Linked DNA regions of Homo sapiens: region 1 is linked to region 2. Evidence: fine-mapped expression QTL. Tissue or cell type: whole blood. Region 2 holds a variant in brackets; the other region holds the start of a gene. All regions are shown on one strand. Distances are between the middles of the regions.

Region 1 (10,283 bases), 80 kb before region 2:
AATTGTAGCCTACCCAGCACTTTAAACATTCCCGATTGACTCCAATATTTGTTCTTCTAGCCACTCCTTCCCCTCTCAGCCAATGTACTTAGGGAGAAGCTGATCCCATGCTAAGTTCCAGGAATGGGCTTTATTTTCCAGGAATGAATCCATACCCTTTCCAGTAAAGGGCTCTGGAATCCAGGTCTAATGAGTCCATACCCTTTCCAGTAAAGGGCTCTGGAATCCAGGTCTAAGTGCCATGTGATTGGTTTAGGAATGGACCAATGAGACACTGTGAGGAAGTTTCCTGAGGGCTTCTGGGAATTTTCTCATAATAGAAAGCTACCAGAATTCACAGGCCCTTTTCATCTTGACTTCTTGTCCATAGACCTGAGGCCAGGGGCTGTGGCAGGCATTTTGTAGGCAGCCTAAGGGTGAAACATGCACAAGAGAGAACAAGACAACACCACAGAGAAGCAGAGCTCAGTAATGGCTGAGCCCTGCCTCACCTCCACCATTCCTAGACCTTCTCAGTCTCTTAGCCAATGAACAGCCTTGATTTTAAAGCAATTTTTATTTGAGTTTTTGCTTCTGGAAGCCAAAACAAACATTTTAGCCTATGGAATCCCAATTTATACTTAACGTTTTTATTTGTTAATCTTTAAGTTTCAGAATTCTTTTCTGATTATAAAAATAATACATACTTATTGTAGAGAACCAAGAAAACATTGAAAGATATAAAGAAGAACATTAAGACCATCCATAATCTCACTATCCCTAGATAACTGCTATTGAGTTTTGAGTTAGTTTCCTCTTTATGTATCCAAACTTACACAGAAATTTTACACATATATTTATCCTGCTTTAATGAAATTCACAGCCTAGTGGGAAATAGAAACAGACAAACAAAAACCGAACAAATAGATGAATATCTGCGACTATGGAACGTCATAGTAACTACTAACCTTGTGTTCACTGTTTTTGGGTAAATGTTGCTAATAATGTTATACCCCATCTCCACAACCCAGAACAAATCAAAGATTTATGTTAATAACTATTAAAATATAATATGCTCTAAAGTATAACAATGTCTCATAATGCCACAAAATCAACCAGTTACCAATATGTTCATTTGGTTTCCCTTCAGTAGGATTTCTTATGGGAAATTGTCCCCTGTCAGTGACTGGTTTCGCTCAACTGTCATTAGGTCTTGTCACAGTAGTTTAATTACAGCAAAAATGGCTGTTATATTGATCATTTTGACAACACACACACAAAAGGTTCAGTATTCATCAGTGTGCTGGGTAAAAACCCTTGGAGCAGGGCCCTCAAGAGGATGGAAGTTACATTGCTATGATTAGTACCAAGCCCATCAGTTCTAAATGTTTTCTAATTTCTATTATGATTTTATGACCCATGAGTTAATTGGAATAGTGGAAATATGGGGCTTGCCAGTTACCTTTTGGTTATTGATTTTTAACTTACCTATATAGTGACCAGAAAATGTGGTTACTATGATATAAATCCTTAGATATGTGGAGACTTGCTTTATGACACAGTATGTTCAATTTTTGTAAATGTTTAGCATATTCTTGATAGGAGTGTGTATTCTATGGTCATTAAGGCAATATTCTACACATATATATTAGATTAAGCTTGGTAATTGTGTTACTCAACTCTTCCAGTACCTTAAAGATTTTTTTGGTCCCCTCGGTCTATGTATTAGTTTCCTGTAATCAGTTGCTTAACAAATTATCACAATAGGTGGCTTAAAAAAACCGACATGAATTCTCAGTTCTGGCATCTAGAAGTCTGAAATCTACATGTTGGCAGGGTCACAATCCCTCCAGAGGCTCAAGAGGAAAATTTGTCTCTTCCAGCTTTGGGTGCTGTCAGCATTCCTTGACTTGGGAATGCCATCACTCCAATCTCTGCTTCTGTGGTTACATTACCTTCTCTTCTCTTCTACCTCTCTTTTATAAAGACACCTATCATTGGATTGATGGCCCACCTGGATAATCCAGGATGATCTTCTCATCTCAAGAACTTTAATTACATCTGCAAACGCCGTTTTTCCAAATAAGGTCATACTCGCAAGTTCTAGGAATTAGGATATGGACATATCTTGTGGGAGGCTGTATTCAACTCACTGCAATTAGAGAGGGAGTGAAAAATCACCTACTCTGATGGTAGATTTCTTTGTCTTCTTATACTTCTGTTCATTTTCGCTTCATATATTTTGTGGCCATATAGTCGCTATGATATAAATCCTTAGATATGTAAAGACTTGCTTTATGACACAGTATGTTAGAGACACTTTTTTGACTCTATCTTCCCTGTATATTGGACTTTTTTTTTAAATGTAAAGACCCTTCTTTATCCCATCGCACTCACCCAGCCATCTACCTAGAGTCTGTTGATGATAAACCATTAGTTGTTTGAAACAGAATTTGCCTTCCTTCTGCCTCTCTTTTTGCCACACATGTAATTCTAAGGTTTTATGTTTTCCCCTTCAGCATACCACTTAATTCTCTTTTTTTTTTTGGAGACAGTCTCACTCTGTCACCCAGGCTGGAGTGCAGTTGCGCGATCTCGGCTCACTGCAGCCTTGACCTCCAGGGCTCAAGTGATCCACCTAAGCCTCCAGAGTAGCTGGGACCACAGGCACACGCCACCATGCCAGGCTAATTTTGTTTTTAGAGGCGTGGTCTTGTTATGCTGGTCTGGCTGGTCTCGAATTCCTGGGCACAAGCGGGCCTCCCATCTCTGTCTCCTCAAGTGGTTGAATTACAGGCGTGAGCCACTGCGCCCAGCTCGCATTTTTTTTTTTTTTTTGAGATGGAGTCTCGCTCTGTTGCCCAGGCTGGAGTGCAGTGGCGCGATTTCGGCTCACTGCAACCTCTGCCTCCCGGGTTCAAGCAATTCTGCCTCAGCCTCCCGAGCAGCTAGCTGGGACAACAGGCACGTGCCACCACGCCCGGCTAACTTTTTTGTATTTTTAGTAGAAACGGGGTTTCCCGTGTTAGCCAGAATAGTGTCGATTTCCTGACCTCGTGATCCGCCCGCCTCAGCCTCCCAAAGTGCTGGGATTACAGGAGTAAGCCACCGCGCCCGGCCTGAGCCGGCATTTTTAAAAGTTGGGTTGCTGGCCTTAGTGCATACAAACGTAAAGGAATTTTAAAAACACATGAGTAACTCAAACGCATTTCTTTTTTGCGCCATCCTGCTATGTGTGATTCGGTTTTTATTCTCGATTTTGTGCGTGTGTGTCGCGACGGCTGGGGACCGACCCAAGAGCAGTCGGACCACGGGCCGCCCAGGGCGGTCTCATCCGTTTATAACCTGCGACCCCGGGGCCTCTTGTGGTCCCGTACCTCCGTCCCAAGCAAAAGCCGGGGCTCTCAGGCACTCAGAGGTGCGAAGGCCCCGTAGACTTGGAGGACGCGAGGAAAACACCTCCAATCACTCTGGCCAGTCCACAGCTACTGCCAAGACTGCTCCGCGCGCGTCCTCAGGAACCGGCGAGGGCCTCGTCGTCATGGTAACCAGATTGCGAACGCGCGTGCGCAAGACACACCTTTGTCACGTGAGGCCGGGCAGGGGGCGGGGCCGGCGAATGCCCGTCCCGACCCGTCGCGCCTCCCCTGTTAGCTCCCTGCCAGCCGAGGCGGGGCGAACCTCTGCCCTGTTGCGTGGGAGTGACTCACAGCTCCCGCCCCTTTTGGCTCCGCTTTCTCGCGGCCAGTCCCTCGCACCACGTGCCCTCCTGGCCGCGCCCCCAGCTGCCCTTTCCAACTGCCTGTTGGAAGCCGCTGTAAAACGTCGTGAGGAGCGCCGCTGCTTTACGGCTGCCTCTCCCAGACTAGAGCCCCGGAGCGCCCACCGCCGTCAGCCGCGTCTTCAAGCTAGTCGGCCCCGCGGAGAGCGAGAGACCCTGCGCACCGCAGCCCTCTCCGCTGCGCCCATTCCTGCCGCCGGCGATGTAACTCGGGGAGGCAGCGGTGCCCGCTGGCCCGGGGTTGAGACAGGCGGCAGGTGCCTGTGAGGCGGGCGGGTGCCGGGGGCCAGCAGGATGGAGGAAAGCATGGAAGAGGAGGAGGGGGGCAGCTACGAGGCGATGATGGACGACCAGAACCACAACAACTGGGAGGCTGCGGTGGACGGCTTCCGGCAGCCCCTGCCACCTCCGCCGCCCCCCTCGTCGATCCCGGCCCCTGCCCGAGAGCCTCCGGGGGGGCAGCTGCTGGCGGTGCCCGCGGTCTCCGTGGACAGGAAAGGCCCCAAGGAGGGGCTCCCGATGGGGCCGCAGCCACCGCCGGAGGCTAATGGGGTGATCATGATGTTGAAGAGCTGCGACGCGGCCGCCGCCGTGGCCAAGGCGGCCCCCGCCCCCACCGCCAGCTCCACCATCAACATCAACACCTCCACCTCCAAGTTCTGTGAGTCCAGCCTTTCCCTGCAGCCTTGGCTTTTCTCCACCTCACTCGGACGCCGAATCCACCCCCTCTTGGAGAAAGCTCCGCTTCCTTTGTTTCAGGCCTCGGTCTTTCCTCTTCTCCCCGTCCGCCTTCGCCTCCCTGCCTCCTTCCCCCTCACCGTCCCCTCCCCCTCATTTGGTGTCTGCGGCCAGCGCCTGAGCGGCCCTGGCTTCTTGTATTACCTGGCCTAGAGAGGCAGCCTGGTACACACGGAGCCCCAAGTTCGGTCAGTGCGATCCCTATCACAACTGGCAGTCTCTCAACATTGGGAAGCTCTTTTCGCACCCGTCTTCTCTTGAAGTTTCACCCTCAAAGTGAGGGGAAAATAAGGCTGCCTGAGTCTCGTTAGGGAAAGGCCTTCAGTCTTCTGCAGCCAGAGAGAGAAAAGAAATCTGGCAACTTGTGTTCTTGTGTTTTTGGCCAGGCTGTGTTAAACAAGTAAGGAATTTGAAAGTTGACCTATATCTACACCTTGTTCCTTCTCTACTGTGTTACACTTTTGCATCCTGCTAGGGAAATAATGAGTTGCTTTCCGATGCAGTGGCAGCTCCGACATCGTCTTGAAGCTAATAATGCATAAAATCACTTTTCAGAGCTTACACTCATAAGAATAAGCCTTTCAGGATGGGTTATGTCTTGTGTCCAAACCCAAGATTGGGTTGCATGTTGAACTTTATGTTAGTAGTCTGTCTTAACGCTCAATTGCACGCATTAAGATTTAAGACCAAAATCTGTTTTGTAATCCGAAACTGCCTCTGACCAGGATATATGTATGCTTCCATAGCTAGGAAAAGAATGTGCTTTTACTTTGGTTTGTGTGTATGTGTGCGTGGCGGTGGTGGTGGTGATAGGATGTTGAAAATGATTGTGACCATCACAGCCAGGTTTTTCTCTCCTATTATTAACTGCAAGTTTTGAGTGGCATCTGGTAAAGCAACTGGAGAGTTCATTTCTAGCTACTAATTTTATGAAGCTGTACTTGTCCAGTTAGCTGTGCAGAGAAAATATTTGCCTTGATGCAGATAGTCGGAATCTTACACACTGTGTGTGGGAACAGCGCGTAATTTTATTTGCCCCAAGATACTGCCTTAGTCAAAGACATTGATATGTACGTTTGGTAAGATTATATACGCTTTTTCTCCTTATTCATGATAATCATGTTTATATTGTATAGTTTGTGTGTTGAAGGCTGTGTTGTGGAACCAGACCTCCTGTAGAGTGGCAGAATGACTTCACCTGAGTCACGAAGGAAGATTGCCTTAGTAAAGTTCCTTTGAAGAGTTCAAAAAAGAGCATAAAGTTAGGAACAGAAATCAGTAAAATTGAGAACAAAAGGATTTGTCACACCAAAAGATTATTTTTGTGAAAAGATGAGTAAGCTAGGCAGACAGACCTCTGATAAAAACGACAAGAAAAAAAGATGCAAATAAATGAAAAATGGAAAATAACTACAAATATCAGATTAAAAAAAGAACGTTATGAACTTAGGCTGATGAATTTGAAAGCCTAAATGAAAAATATAGTTCTTAGAAAACTAGTAAATGTGAAAATTGGTATCAGAAGAAATATCTTGAACTAATAAACTGAAATGGTAAAGATCTCCCTTTTTAGAAGCTCTGCATCCAGATACGCTGATGAGTTCCACCATACTTTAACACTTAATTCTTTTTGCAAGTTGCACTGGAAAATAGAAAAAATACCAAGTTCATTTTATGAGGCTTGTGAAATCTTGATTCTAAAACAGATAAGGACATGTAAGAAGAGAAAATTATAGGTCTGTTTTACTTAGCATAGAAATGAAAATACTGCAGAATAAATACTCGCTCATCAAATCCAACAGTGTGTTACAGAGTCCTGATCCATAGAGTTAGTCCTAGAGATGAAAGCATGGTTTAACATCTACTTATCTAATTTAGCTCTTTAATAGACTAAAGGAAAAAAATTACGATTATCTCAATTGGTGCCCTGAAATCATTCAACTAGATCCAGCAGCTATTTATGATAAAAACTCTTGGTAACCTAGGAGTACAAGATAACTAGATAAAGGTCATTACCAAAAACCTTCAGTAAATAATAATACTTAATGGAGAAATTTTAGATACATATACTTTAAGATCCGTAACAAGATAAGGATGCTCCTGTCATTACTACTGTTTAGCATTGTAGGAAGGTCCTGGCTAACATTATAAGGAGCAAAAAAATAAGGTATAAAGATTGTAAGGGAAGCAATAAAAGTTATTATTTGCAGATAATATGATCACCTACCTAGATGAACCATTAAAATCCAGAGAAAACTTAGAACTAGTAAGAGTTTAGCAGGATTGCTGGATTTAAGATAAACTTACAAAAATTTGATAGCATTTACTAAACTAGTGATAACTAGTAAAGATAATCAAAAGTAAATACTATATGTAATAATAGCAACAAAACTCTAAAGTCTCTAGGAATCAACCCGTGAATACGCAAGACCTTTAAAAAGGAAACTTTAAAACTTGAAAAAGAAACTAGAGGATAATCTAAATAAATGGTACAATTTTCCTTGCTCTTGGATCAAATTACTTACAAGAATACTAATTTTCTCCAATTTATAAATTCAGTTTAAATGACGTCAAAATTACATTTGGTTTGACAAACTCAATAGCCTAAGTCTAAAATTTATATGGTGTGTGGGATAAAGTTTGTGAATAACAGAATCAATCTTAAAGATTTGTTTGGGGATGGGAGGCTTGCCTTATTAGAAGTTAAGATGTCAAGGCTGTAGTTAAAGTGGTGTAAGTGCGAGAACAGAAAAATAGACCAAGGAAACAAATTGGAGGGCAGAGACTTACCTGGATACATGTATAAAAGTTGGGAACTTTTTAAGTGGCATCATAAACCACTGGAGAAAGGAGTCATATGTTGTTAGGGAGAGTGACTCACTATATAGAGAAAAAATAAATTTAATATCATAAATGGATAGACTCCAAATGAATTAAAGACCTAAATGTGAAAAGAAAAACCAAAGTTAACATTATTGAAAATGTTAAGCTCTTTCCCTAGGGACAGGGAAGTACTTTTTAAAGCTTCAAAAGTTTATAAAGGTGAAAAATTAATTATTTTGATTATATGAAAATTATTCATTTGGCAAAAGATGAAAAAATTAGAGAAGATATTTACAGTGCCTAAAATTAACAAGGGATGATGATCTGACTAGACAAGGGACTACTTACTATACATCAACAAGAGGGCAGCAACTTCTGTAGAAAAATAGGCAAAGGATATTAATAAGTAGCTTATAGAAAGAATAGGAAACCCTAAAAAGCATAAGAAGAGATGAATTTATTAATATTCAGAGACATGCATATTAAAATAGTAATGGAAAAGAGTATAATTGGATTGTTTGTAAAACAAAGGATAAATGCTTGAGGTGATGGTACCGCATTTTCCCTGATGGGATTATTACACACTGTATGCCTGTATCAAAATATCCCATATACCTCATAAAAATATATGCCTACTATATACCCACAAAAATTAAAGAATAAAATAGTAACGGAATGTCTTTTTCCACCTTTAGGTTGACAAAAATTAGAAAGCTGAATGAATAGTGCCAAGTGCAATGGGGATATGGTAATACAGGAAAACGTATACTTGCTTGTGGGAATAGCAGTGTAGTGAACTTGTGAGATGTTGAGATGTCCGAAGTCTCTGTGGACCAGATAGTGGAAGATAGCTGCCGCGTTAATGTATCCCTCAGCTATGGCAGTGAAGGTATACTTTAGACTGTAAGGTGAAAACAGCTTCTGTTGGTTTCTAGTTTTGGGACAGAGATAAAAAGCATTTATTATCTTGATGGATACATGGTAGGTGCCAGGGATGGTGTTGATTTGTCACAGTGAAGAGACCATGTCTGGAACAGCAACTAAAATTGGAGTCACTTTGGATTTGATCGATGATAATCCACAGTCATGCTCCAAGACTCATCTCTTTTGCTCTGGCCAAACAGACCCATGAAATAAGAATGTCATAATTATCACCATTCCTTTTTTTTTTTTGAGACAGTCTCGCTCTGTCGCCAGGCTGGAGTGCCGTGGTGCAGTCTTAGCTCACTGCAATCTCCGCCTCCCGGATTCAAGCAATTCTCCTGCCTCAGCCTCCTGAGTAGCTGGGATTACAGGTGTGCACCACCATGCCCGGCTAATTTTTGTATTTTTAGTAGAGATGTGTTTCACCATGTTGGTCAGGCTGGTCTCAAACTCCTGACCTCAGGTCATCCACCCGCCTTGGCCTCCCAAAGTGCTGGGATTACAGGCGTGAGCCACCACGCCCGGCCCTCCTTTCTTATTTTTAAAGTCTTTGACATTGATAGTGTTTTCTATAGTTCCCACAGAGATGTGTTGTTTGTTGCTTCGAGTTTATTACTTTGGTAGGAAAGGGTACATCTAGCCCTTCCTATGTTGATATTCCTGACTTCACAGGTTAGGGAACCATGAACTAGTTTCAGAACTGGGGGAGTTACAGTGTTACTACGGGTCCACCAGCCCTACTGTGAGATGGATTGAGGCCAAAACACCATTTATGTGACGTCCATAAGCCCCTGATCTGCCTGGTTTACCATAGTGACGTTCCTGTCTCTTAGGGTTCGTATTGGCTTAGAGCCAGTGTTTATTAATCTTTGAAAAGTCTCAGTGATTTCCATTTCCCAAATGTACTATCTCCCTAATAAATACCTGCATGTTCTATTGGAAAAGGCTAGGAGGAAGACTTTAATTATGTGGGGTTCTTCCTCAGTGGAACTCATCCTCTTCTTTATTCCAGCATTTCTGTGTCTGTGAATAGGCTCATTGTGGGTTTTAGGTGAGGTTACATGGCTTTCCATTATGCCACTTAGGTGAGACCTCTGTTTAATATATCTAGAGTTTTTCTTTTCTGTCCATTATAACAGATCAAGTAATACCCCAGTATATTGCCTTTGTTTTCCTAAGGATATCATGGTTAGCCACCATGAGGGAGATCCAAGCCACCAGAAATCCAAGCCACCAGAAATCCAAGCCATTCTGCTGATCACTCTGGCCCTGCTGCCTCTTTAAATAATCATGCCCATTTTATATCTGGAAGTTATTTCCACTTCGTCACTCTGGAAGTAGAACTATTCCACTGAAATCAGGGAACCTCTTTTAATGGCAGTATTGCCCATCGTTAACCCAGAATTACAAGGGACAACCACCACAGCATTTTTTTCAGTAATTATATTTAATTATTTATATATTTCTCAGTTGGTGAAGGACCTTCTCAGAGCACAGTTCAGGGAGTAAGAGTGGGTTAGAACATGACAAATTTATATTCCTTTCTTCATATGTCTGGACTCATTTCTCCACGTACTAAGTAATTTCTGTTCTGACTGCTTCCTCCCTCCTCCTGACTCTTCTTCCTTTTCCTTTCCTCTTTTTCCTGTGTCCATTTTCTTCCTCCACACCTCTTCTCCTCCATTCAATATAGTGTACCCATTTTAGGTGTGCAGTTTGATGCATTTTAACCCATGTCGCCGTCTGGTGTGGAATTTGATTTTACCCTACTAATACTTAAAAGGTAGCCTATTACTGTTACAGGTTGACTATCCCTCATCCAAAATGCTTGGGGCCAGAAGTGTTTTGGATTTCAGATTTTTTTCGGATTTTGGAATATTTGTGTTATACCAAATGATTGAGCATCCCAAATCCAAAAATTCAAAATCCAAAATTTTCCAGTGAACATTTCCTTTAAGCATCATATTGGTGCTCAAAAAGTTTCAGATTTTGGATTTTTGGATTTAGGATTCTCAACTTGTATTACTGGGTGCTGACA
Region 2 (10,283 bases):
TTTAAAATGAGAAAATGATAAAAAAAAAACTTAATGGACCTAAATAAGTGTAGAGAATATAAGGGATAACACTCAATATTATCTAAATCTCAACTTTTTCTCCAAATTGCAATTCCAAAAAAATTCCCAATGATTTTCACTGTGGAACCTGACAATTTGATTCGTCGATATAAATGGAAGAGCAAAGGGCCAAGGATATCCAAGACCTTTCTGAATGGATTGTGAGGGGAACTAGCACTACAAGATTCTAACACTTACTGCCAAAGGTAGTGATTAAAACAATGACTTTGGAGTAGGGAAGAATTTCATCAACAAGATAGAAAATGCAGACTATCAGTAGATAAGTAATTTGGCTACCATTGATTGTAAGTACTTATTACCAAACATGCTGTAGAGTGAAAAGAGAAGCCAAATCTGGAATAAGATACAAATATTCATAATATAACTGCTAAAGAGCACCTGAATGCAAATCAGCAATGAAAACAACTCAGGAGAGACGGACCCCAAACACTAGCAGGCATTTCACAGAAGAAACAGAAATGGCCCATAAATGTGAAAAGATGTTCAGCCTCATTAGTCGTCAGGTAATGCACATTAAAAGCATAGATACCATTTCCTTGCTGACAACTTGGCAGAAATTATGAGAAGTCTGAAAATAACAATCTGAGAGTTTATGACAACAAACCTTCACCTGTTGTTGGCGTGTAAATCTGCACTTCTACTTTGGAGAACAGTATTATCTAATGAAATTGAGCATAGGCACCTCTTAATAGCCCACTATTTATACTTAGAAAAACTCATGTGCATGTGTACCAAGAAACGTATACAGGGATGTTTATAACAGCATTATGTGTAATAATTAAAAGGAATGAAGGAGGGAGCCAAATGCCCATCTAGCATACAGTGAATAAATGAAGTGTATGCTGTGGAATTCTCTAGAGTGGTCAAGGCATCATACCACTGCGGGCTTCAACATGGATGCATCTCAGAAATCATTGAGTGAAGTCAGAATAGAGCCAGCATGGGTACCTTTATGTAAAGTTCAAAATCAGAAAAAACTAAGTATATTGTTTAGGGACTCAGACACAAGTAGTAAAGCTATAAAGGAAAGACAGTTATTAACATTCAGGAACATAGTTTCCTCAGGAGAGGGTGGTGGAGGGGAATGAGAACAGAGGGGAGAACGGGGACTTGGAAGCACTTCATAATATGAACGTTTGGACCATTCTAAACATGCCAGTTCTCTGAGTTAATGTATATTCAGTGTAAAGCCAATTCAGATAACCAACAGTATTTATATAATCTAAAAAACTCATGGAAGTATAAACAGATGAAAATAGGAAAATCCCCATTGAAAGTGAAGAAAATGGAAGGAACTTGCTGTACCAAAAAAAATCACTTTCTAAGTGCAATTAAATTAAAAGACTTATGCCAGGGTAAACAGATAAGTCAATGGAAGGTAATTTAGAAAATAGAAAACTCAAATTTAGAATTTAGAGTACACTAAAGGCGGCTTTTTGAAATCATGCTGTCCATGGTCAATTATTTTATGAAAGGTGCTGGTATAATTAGAGAACATTAAACTGATTCCTATCATACCATTCACCAAGAGAAATTCCAGATTGTGAACTAAAAAAGAAAAAAATGTTGTAAAAACTAGAAAGTAGTATTTTTTCTTGGGATTGGAGAAGTTTTTTCTAAGAATACAAGCAATGAAACCGAAAACCCTATTAAACTCACTCACCTGCCTTTAATGCCGTAGTGTGCACACCCCAGTGTGTGTGTGTGTGTGTGTGTGTGTGTGTGTGTACATAGACATATATATTTTAAAATGTTTAAATTTGAACATATGTTACCAATACATATAAAGCAAAAGTAGAAAATCAAAAAGATGAAGTAAAAATGTTTTAAAATATTGTTTGTGGTATTTGTGGTTAATAAACCTTTGCTCTTTCTAAAAAAATGTTCTTTTAGAGAGAGTCATGATTAAAAATGCTTGTCATTTTTGAAACTCCTAGTTTTAACACTTTATAAAAACAACTTAATGTTCTTAAGGTAAGTTTATTTTCATGCTTGGTTTTAATGACTATTGTAGCTGAATAAGTCACTTCATTAATTAAGATCTGTGGATCCAAATATGGCTGTGCTTACTGAAAATATTTTTGAGTTCCATCCACCAATTTTGCAAAAGTGTGTTGTTGAAATTTTTATAATAAATTTTCATCTTTTCCAATGTCAGTAACTTGTTTTTGCTGAATAATTAGGAGTGTTGCATTTTTATTTTTGCTAACAGATGGGTTCAAAACCTGCTGTAACTTATTTTTGAATTTCATTTCCCAAGTTTAAGTGTACACTTTGAAGAGTTTTTATAGGTGACAATTTTTGGCAACACATTTTCATGAATTCTTGCTCGGTCATCGTTAGTATTAAATGTTATCTTTACCTTGAAGGGTCAGTTTAAATCTGTCCATTTAAAAAAATACTTTCTAGATTGCATATTGATTACAGACACTTGTCACCACAGGAAAGATTGGCACATTCAAGTCTTTTTATCAATTAAAAAAATACCATATTTAAGAATTTTGCTATGAGATAACCGGCAAATTTGAGGGTTTAATTTCCTCATCTCATTATAAACTGTTGTCAAGATGCTTTTGTGTAAGATAATAAAAATCTAAGTCCAGTTGGCTTATGGGGCACACAGATGACAATATTCTGGAAGAGAGTGGTGCCGCTGTTGCTCTCTCTGCAACATGGAGCTCTCAGCACTCCTTGAGGATTCCTCACTGACTGGCATGTGCTGCCTGACCACTTGCCATGCAGCCTGTGTGTCTGTTATGTATTGGTAAGGCTTCTTTACTCTTAAAAACATAACTTCTGTTTTCTTCCTGTACCTCAGTGGATCACCTTGTTCACTTTGGAGATCACTGGCTTAAACAGTGAGGGAGACATCACTTCACAGAAGTCTCAAGGTTGGGCAGTTCCAGGGCTGATAAATACAACAGCTAATTGATGTCCAGGACCTGGATTTCTTCCTGCTTTCTGCTCTGCCAGCCTCATTATGTTCACTTTGTGCTCAGTGTTGCTTCCTTCAAGGTCTTTACTTGACTGCTGCAGTTGTCAGAATGACAACAACCAGTTGAAGCAGAGGGCCTCTGTTCCCCAGCATGTCTCTTTTAAGAGCAGTGTAACTTCCCTGAAGCCACACCAGCGCAGTTCCCTTCGGTTTTCATTGAGGGGCATTGGGATAACTGAGGAGGAGAATGGGACCACCATGGTAGACTTAGACCAAACAGATCTACCCTCCTGGGGCTGGGACCTGGCTCAAGCCCACATTGGGTTAAGGAGGTGGGGCTGTCTGGAAAAAGCTGGGTCTCAGGACGGTGAAAGGCTGCTAGTGACTCTTGGTTACGTGAGTCCACTACGTAGGTCTGTGACAGCTGTCCATTGGGAGCCTTTGGGAGATGGGAAAACCAAACTTTGACTCCACATCAACTTTGTTTTTACACAACATATCTGCTCTTCAGGATTAACCAAGGTGCTTTGCTTTGACAGTCATGGTAGATGATTTCTCCTAGAATCTATAAACAACACAGAATAGTCACCCTCCTGACTAGAATAGCCAGGGAGCTATGATTAAAGAAGACAAAGAGCTTACATTAGCATAGGCGAAAGAAAAAGTCCCTGTCTGAAAAGGAAAATTTTTTCTTGGGTATGTCCAGATTCACCCAAAACAAAGCTAAGCAGGATGGTGGTATGTAACAAGGTGTTAGGAAGTAAAAATAGGGCCTTGCTTGTTGAGATAGTGTTTGGTGAACAATCTTGTCCCTAAGACAGCTCAGACAGCATTGGGGAAAGGAAATAGATGTCATCTGAGCACATGTGACACAGTGACAGCTGCTCTTCACTGGATACCTGTCTGCATGGGAGGTGTTTCACGCACATCTTAGGAGCAATCCAGTGAGGCAGTGACTCGTGGCACTCTACAGATGTATGGTGAGCCGTTCTGAGACGACCCGAGTGACTGCCACTCCCGCATTCACACCCTTAATGTAATCCCCTCA[A/C]CTTGAGTGTGGGCTGGACCCAGCAACTTGCTTCTGTTGAAAATACTGTGGCCCAGGTGATGGGCTGTCACTTCTGTGATTAGGTTACAGAAGACTCGTCATTTTGCCTGTGTTCTCTCCTCAGCTTTCACTTGACAGGGCCACTGGGCAAGGAACTGAGGGTGGCATCCAGCCAACAGCTACCAAGGAACTGAGGCCTTCAATCTAATAGCCCGAGGGGCTGTAAATCCTGCTGACGGTCCGAGTGAACTTGGAATGGATGTTGGTCCAGTTGAATCTTGAGATGACTGTGGCCCTGGCTGACACCTTGATCACAGCCTAGCGGCAAAGCCTGAGACAGAGAATTCAGCTAAGCTGTGCCCAGACTCCTGACCCAGGGAAACTCTGGAATAACCGTGTGCTGGTTTAAGCCACTAAATTTTGTGAGTAATTTGTTACACAACAATACAACTATTACAAGATGAAACAGCCCAGATGTCAGATTTAAATAACCTGCCCCAAATCACACAATGGAAGATTTGAACCCCCATCTACAAGGTGATTTGCTTTACTGCTCAGTCCTCCCTCTTGGCAGCCTCTGGTACAGGTGAACACTGGACTGTGGGCCTCTGTTAGACCTAGCAGGGCTGTTCTTAAGACCTCACTAATCATACCTCCCCCGGCAGTGGTGGTGAAGCCATCCATGACCATAATAACTTCAGAGAGAGCCTTTTCAGCCGGGGCTTCATGAATAAAGCTCTGCAGAAAAGGGTGTTTGAATAATTTTTGTCACTTTTCCCAAGGATGGTAAACAGCTTTTAGATGCACAGGAGCGAAATTACATATAATGGATGCCTTAGGGCACCAGGGCCGTTTAGCTGGGCAGGGCACCTCAGGCCAGGGCCCAGGAGAGCCCTCATGGGCAGGAGACGTGAAGGTACGTGGAGATTCAGAGGTGAAGGGAACAAGCAAATGGCATTGATCAGGACTTTGGAGGCAGCACAGTGCAATTGAAAGAACAGATGCTTCAGACTTGATACCTTTGGGGCCAGCTGGCTTCAGGCCCTGTTGAGCTGTCTCTCCCTGGGCAGGTCACTCAGCTCTCTGAGCTTCAGTTTACTCCGCTGTGAAACCGTAGTACGCTTTCACTCATGCTTTCAGTTTTTCCCTGGCTAGATGTTTCCCAGCCTTCAGATCTCAGAATAACAGCAGCTACCACTACTGTAACTACTCCCCCGGAGTAGTTACCAAGCGCTTACTGTGCGCCTGGCACTGTACAAAGCACTCTATGCCTATCGTCTCAACTCACAACAGCCTCATTTTCCATTGAGAAAGCTGGAACTCACAGACATGAACAATCACTGGTCCTGAACAATTGCTCACTGTCAGTGGTTGATGTAAGGGCTTCAAGATATAACCATAACACATGGCCTGGCACAGAGCATGTGCCCAGTGAGTGCCCAATTCCTATGGCAGCAGATCAGTCTGCTGCACTGTGGCTCAGCTCCCTGGATGGCAGAAGAGACCAAGGGCCATAACTCGGCCTCCTTATGCCCAAACAGTGTCATTCTCAGCAGAGCCTGTGGACTGTCTGAGGGTCTCTGCTGAGGGTGGCTGTGGGCTGTTAGCAGCGTTCTCTGTTGGATAGGGCTCCCTAAGCTCTGGGTAGCCTCTGGGCCTGCAGACAGAGCCCAGTCTAGTGCCCCAGCATTTGGGAAGTGCAAGGCCAGACTTTTGGGACACATTGTGGGGAAAGGGACCCAACAGGGCTGTCAAGAGCAAGATCTCTCAGCAGGACCACTGACTCCCTAAGCTAAAATAATGATCCAGAAGACACAATTGAGTGGCGCATTAGTCCATTTTCACGCTACTGCCAAAGACTGGGCAATTTACAAAAGAAGTTTAATTGGACTACAGTTCTATGTGGCTGGGGAAGTCTCACAATCATGGTGGAAGGCAAGGAGGAGCACGTCAACGTCTTACATGGATGGCAGCAGGCAAAGAGTTTGTGCAGGGAAACTCTTATTTTTAAAACCATCAGATCTCTGGAGACTCATTCACTATCAGAAGAACAGCGCAGGAAAGACCCGCTCCCCTAATTCAGTCACCTTCCACTGGGTCCCTCCCACAACATGGGGGAATTCAAGATTATATTTGGCTGGGGACACAGCCAGACCATATCAAGTGGCTAATCATCATATGCTGTTCAGAGAGAAGGAGACTCAGGCCAAGGTCAGATATACTCGAGGCGGCTGAATGCTATTGCAGGGAGAGCTCATCCTGGAATCGGATCAGACAGAATTTTGGCTCCGCCATTATTAAGTCACTGAGCCACTCTGACTTCCAGTCTCATCTATTAAAAAAAAAAAAAAAAACTGGCCCATGGTAGTGAACACTGTTGCTTTGGCCTGCTCAGCTGCCATTTGCACTTCTTTATATAATTTTCTTGGGGGAACTGCTTCTGTCTGTTCAACATAGTCCTGGGCGGAGGTAGGTGCAGGGACTGCTGGTGAAGGCGTCCTGCCTTCTTCAGCTAGCAGATGGGAATGTACCTGAGCCAATCAGGCCCCTCTCCTGGAGCTGGAATTATGTATGGGGCAATTTGAAGTCCTCAAAAGGCAGGAGCTGGCCCTTCCCAAGAGCAGAGACACCCGGAGCTGGTGCTGGGGCTGTCTGATCCTTACCCTTCCAAAGGCTGTAGCACCTCAATGGTCTTTCCTTTTCACTGTAAGGGGTGACAGTCAGTGTTTGCCGCTTGCAGCCCACATGCCCTAAGACCCCCAGAGGATCCCCTGTGTGTTCTTGCTTTGCATGTAATCCCTTCCTCATAAGTGAAGTCTTCGTTAGCTGCTTTGAGCATTTCTAAAACAGTGGTAAACAAATGAATACATTTATGAGATGGTGGCTTGCTGGTTTCTTCCCTCTGCATTTTCTCTTTAGGAAAAAAAAGGGGGAGACTGTCTAGGCTGATCCTTAGTCTAGAGTTCCTGGGGTAGAGTGCCCAGGGACACAGTCCCTAAGAGCCTGTGATGGTTAATATTGTCAACTTGATTGGAATGAAGGTTGAAAGTATTGTTCCTGCGGGTGTCTGTGGGGGTGTTGCCAAAGGAGATTAACATTTGAGTTAGTGAACTGGGAGAGGCAGACCCACCCTCAATCTGGGTGGGCACCATCTAATCAGCTGTCAGCACGGCTAGATAAAAGCAGGCCGAAAATGTGGGAGGACTAGACTGGCTGAGTCTTCTGGCCTTCATCTTTCTCCCATGCTGAATGCTGCCTTCTCTCAAACATCAGACTCCAAGTTCTTCAGTTTTTGGACTCTTGAACTTATGCCAGTGGTTTGCCAGGGGCTCTCAGGCCTTCAGCCACTGACTGAAGGCTGCACTGTCGGCTTCCCTACTTGTGAGGTTTTTAGGACGCGGACTGGCTTCCTTGCTTCTCAGATTGCATGCAGATGGCCTATTGTGGGACTTCACCTTGTGATGGTGTGATCCAATACTCCTTAATAAACTCCCTTTCGTATATACATCTGTCCTATTAGTCCTGTCTCTCCAGAGAACCCTAACTAATACAGAGCCCTTGATCCCCGATGACCCACCAGCAGAGAAACCCAGGTGTCCTCTTACACTGACTGGCATCCCGGGGGTCCTTGCCCAGCTCCAAAGTGAGCTGCATGAGCAGGGTCTGGTGAATGAATGCCTCTGCACAGTTGCTGGCACATCTCTCAAAGCCCCGGTCCAAACCTTTTAATGGACTACAAAACACTGCTGGCCGCGTCTCTCCCCCAGCTGACCATTTGTAAATTGCTTTCGCCCTGATGCCTGATGGGGTGAAAAATGCATTTCCCATATCCAGACTGCAGCAGGTGGATTTCTGCCGCCACTGCAGCAGGAGCTCACAGGGCCAGCCTGGCAGCTTTGGCCCTGGCCCTCAGCCTGTGAGAGCACTGGTGGCCTTCTGGGAGTGGGTGGGCAGGTGACGGGCCCTGTTTGGGGACCCTTGCCCACACACCACAGGTTCTAATGGCTGGAATGGGCAGGGGCGAGGGTGGTCCTCTGATCACTGGTCACAGGATCTGCTGGAAGGGAGCCTCCGCTCCCACCCTGCTTCACTGGGTCCTGAGCAGGACACTGAATCTCAGGCCTCAGTTTTTGTTCTCTAAATGAGGCCCCTATTGAGCAGGTCCTTGCTTTGTGCCTGGCATCTTATTTCTCATGTCCCTGGGGTCTGTGCTGCTGCTCCCTCCATTCTCCATGCCAGGTTTGTTGCTGTGTCCTACTAGGGCTATCTGACTCCAGGGGGACATCGGGTACACTGGTGGCACTGCTAGGTGCCCACCCAGATTGAGGGTGGGTCTGCCTTTCCCAGTTCACTAACTCAAATGTTAATCTCCTTTGGCAACACCCCCACCCTGAGGACCCCTATTGTCCTCAGGGCCGTCCCCTCTGACACTGCCAGCAGCTGTTGGGACAGCACCATGGCATCTGCCTTCTTGGAGGGCTGCCGCCTCTCTGTCCCCTTCCTCTGAGTGAGACAGAGAGGAGTGAGAGCTGGATGCTGTCACATCATCTTTCCGGGGTTCAGCATGGGTGCTGGTTAGGAGCACAGGCCTCTAAAACTCTGTCTCTGCCTACAGAAGTCTCCATCCCCCACCCATAAGCTGGGGGTGCCCTCTACTAGAAATGGGTTAGCACTAACATTACAGACAATAATAGTAGCTATGATTATTTAGATGACTTTTCTCTTTAAAGGAAAACAGTTATCACTTAGTAAGTATTGAAAAAAACAGCAGTAATTATTATACTGTCTAGCCAAAGCCTGTTCAAGTTCCCTTTTAACTTTCTCTTCTTTGGGCTAAAATTAGATTTGTGTTTTCTTTTAACTCAATAAACAGTCACTGAGCAGCCTCCACGTATTAGATTAGACGATCTCCATGGTAATCCGGAGCGCCTGCATCTGATTAAATCTGTACCCAGGCCTCCGTCCAAGGCTGCGGTCCCTGAAAGGAAGTCCTTGTGGAAAAACAGTAGCTTTCAATTACCGAGTGTTTCTGTCGTCAGGCTTGCGCTAAGCACTTTATATACAAATTGGCATTTAATGACCAAAACAGTCCCATGGCGGGGCTTCTAATCCTGTTTTACAAATGGGATAAGTGGAGTTCAGAGAAATCCAGTAATTTATCCAGAGTCCCTCAGGTACCAGGGGACAGAGCTGGGTCCAACTCGGGTCTGACCCCGAGGCTGTGCCTTTTTCTCCCAGGCCACGCTGCAGACCCCAGGGAGTGGCACAGTGGGAATGAAACTCTGAGCCACTTCCGCAATTTAGCCTGTTAATAGGAAGCGAACATCTACCCCCAAATGCTGCTCAGACTGGCTCATTTGGCAGCTTCCTCTGATGAGCTGAAATGCTGCTGCTCTGCGGCCACCCTGGGAGTCTCATTCTGGTCTAATGGGCTCTGATGGGCAGTTAGAGATGTGATAGATAAAGCAGAGAATGAGTTAGCACCTAACCACGATGGGGGCAGGCAGCCTCTTCCTAAGCAAAGAGTCCGGTGGGACCGAGAGCTACGTGATGGAAGGGCTCTGTCCCCAACCTGGGAGGGGTTGGGATACTTAGGTCAGGGAGCAGAGTTGGAGCTAGAGTTCCACCCTCCTTCTTCCTCATCTGCTCAGAAACGGAGTGATGAGAACATAAATTCAGCCCCAAGGAGTCAAGAAGGACCTGAGAGGCAAACACTGAACAGCCAGTGCCATCTCATGCCCCACCCCACAGCTACCCCAAGAAGTAGGTACTCTGATTATTCTGTTTTCAGACGAGGAGTTAAGGCTCAGAGAGGTACCCGGAGTTACACAGCCAGTAGGTGGCAGAACCACGATGGCCAGACCCCAATCACAGCCCCACCTGAAACTAGACTCCAGCCTAGGAGCCTTGCTTTCTCCTGAAGACCCCACTGGACTGAGACCCCACCACCTGGAGTGCATCTACTGTGCTGGCTAAAAGAGCTGCTTGCTGGAAGCCCAGGTTCCCTGATGTCCGTCTTGCTGCAGAAGTCCAGAGCCTCATGTCAGCCGCCTCCCACAAATCCAGGTCTGGCCAGTGCCCCTTGCCCCCACTCTCAGCAACAACAGCGTTTCCTAGAGCTGTGCCCCAGGTCCTGATGTTCCCTGGCTGAGGGCCCTTGGCCAACAGACTGCGCTTCTGTTTTCTCCTTGGCAAGAAGAGGGCATCCCTGAACATCAG

Evidence for each region. PIP is the estimated chance that this variant, and not a neighbour inherited with it, causes the effect.
Region 1: it holds the start of CACUL1, and the variant in region 2 is fine-mapped to the expression of CACUL1 in whole blood (TOPMed, PIP above 0.99).

Annotation. Positions count from the first base shown.
Region 1 is chr10:118,748,534-118,758,816 of GRCh38, reverse strand. CACUL1 (CDK2 associated cullin domain 1) reads left to right here and starts at 3,847. Exons shown (of 9, transcript NM_153810.5): 1 at 3,847-4,421. The coding sequence starts at 4,055. LOC107987151 (a long non-coding RNA gene) reads left to right here. Exons shown (of 2, transcript XR_001747604.3): 1 at 1-184; 2 at 231-1,064. RefSeq lists enhancers at 3,486-3,780, 3,779-3,918.
Region 2 is chr10:118,668,366-118,678,648 of GRCh38, reverse strand. It overlaps CACUL1 (CDK2 associated cullin domain 1), which reads left to right. Exons shown (of 9, transcript NM_153810.5): 9 at 1-2,238. Among named protein-coding and RNA genes, the nearest start is that of PRLHR, 78 kb to the right of the region's middle. The variant A/C (reference allele first, on the strand shown) is at 4,065.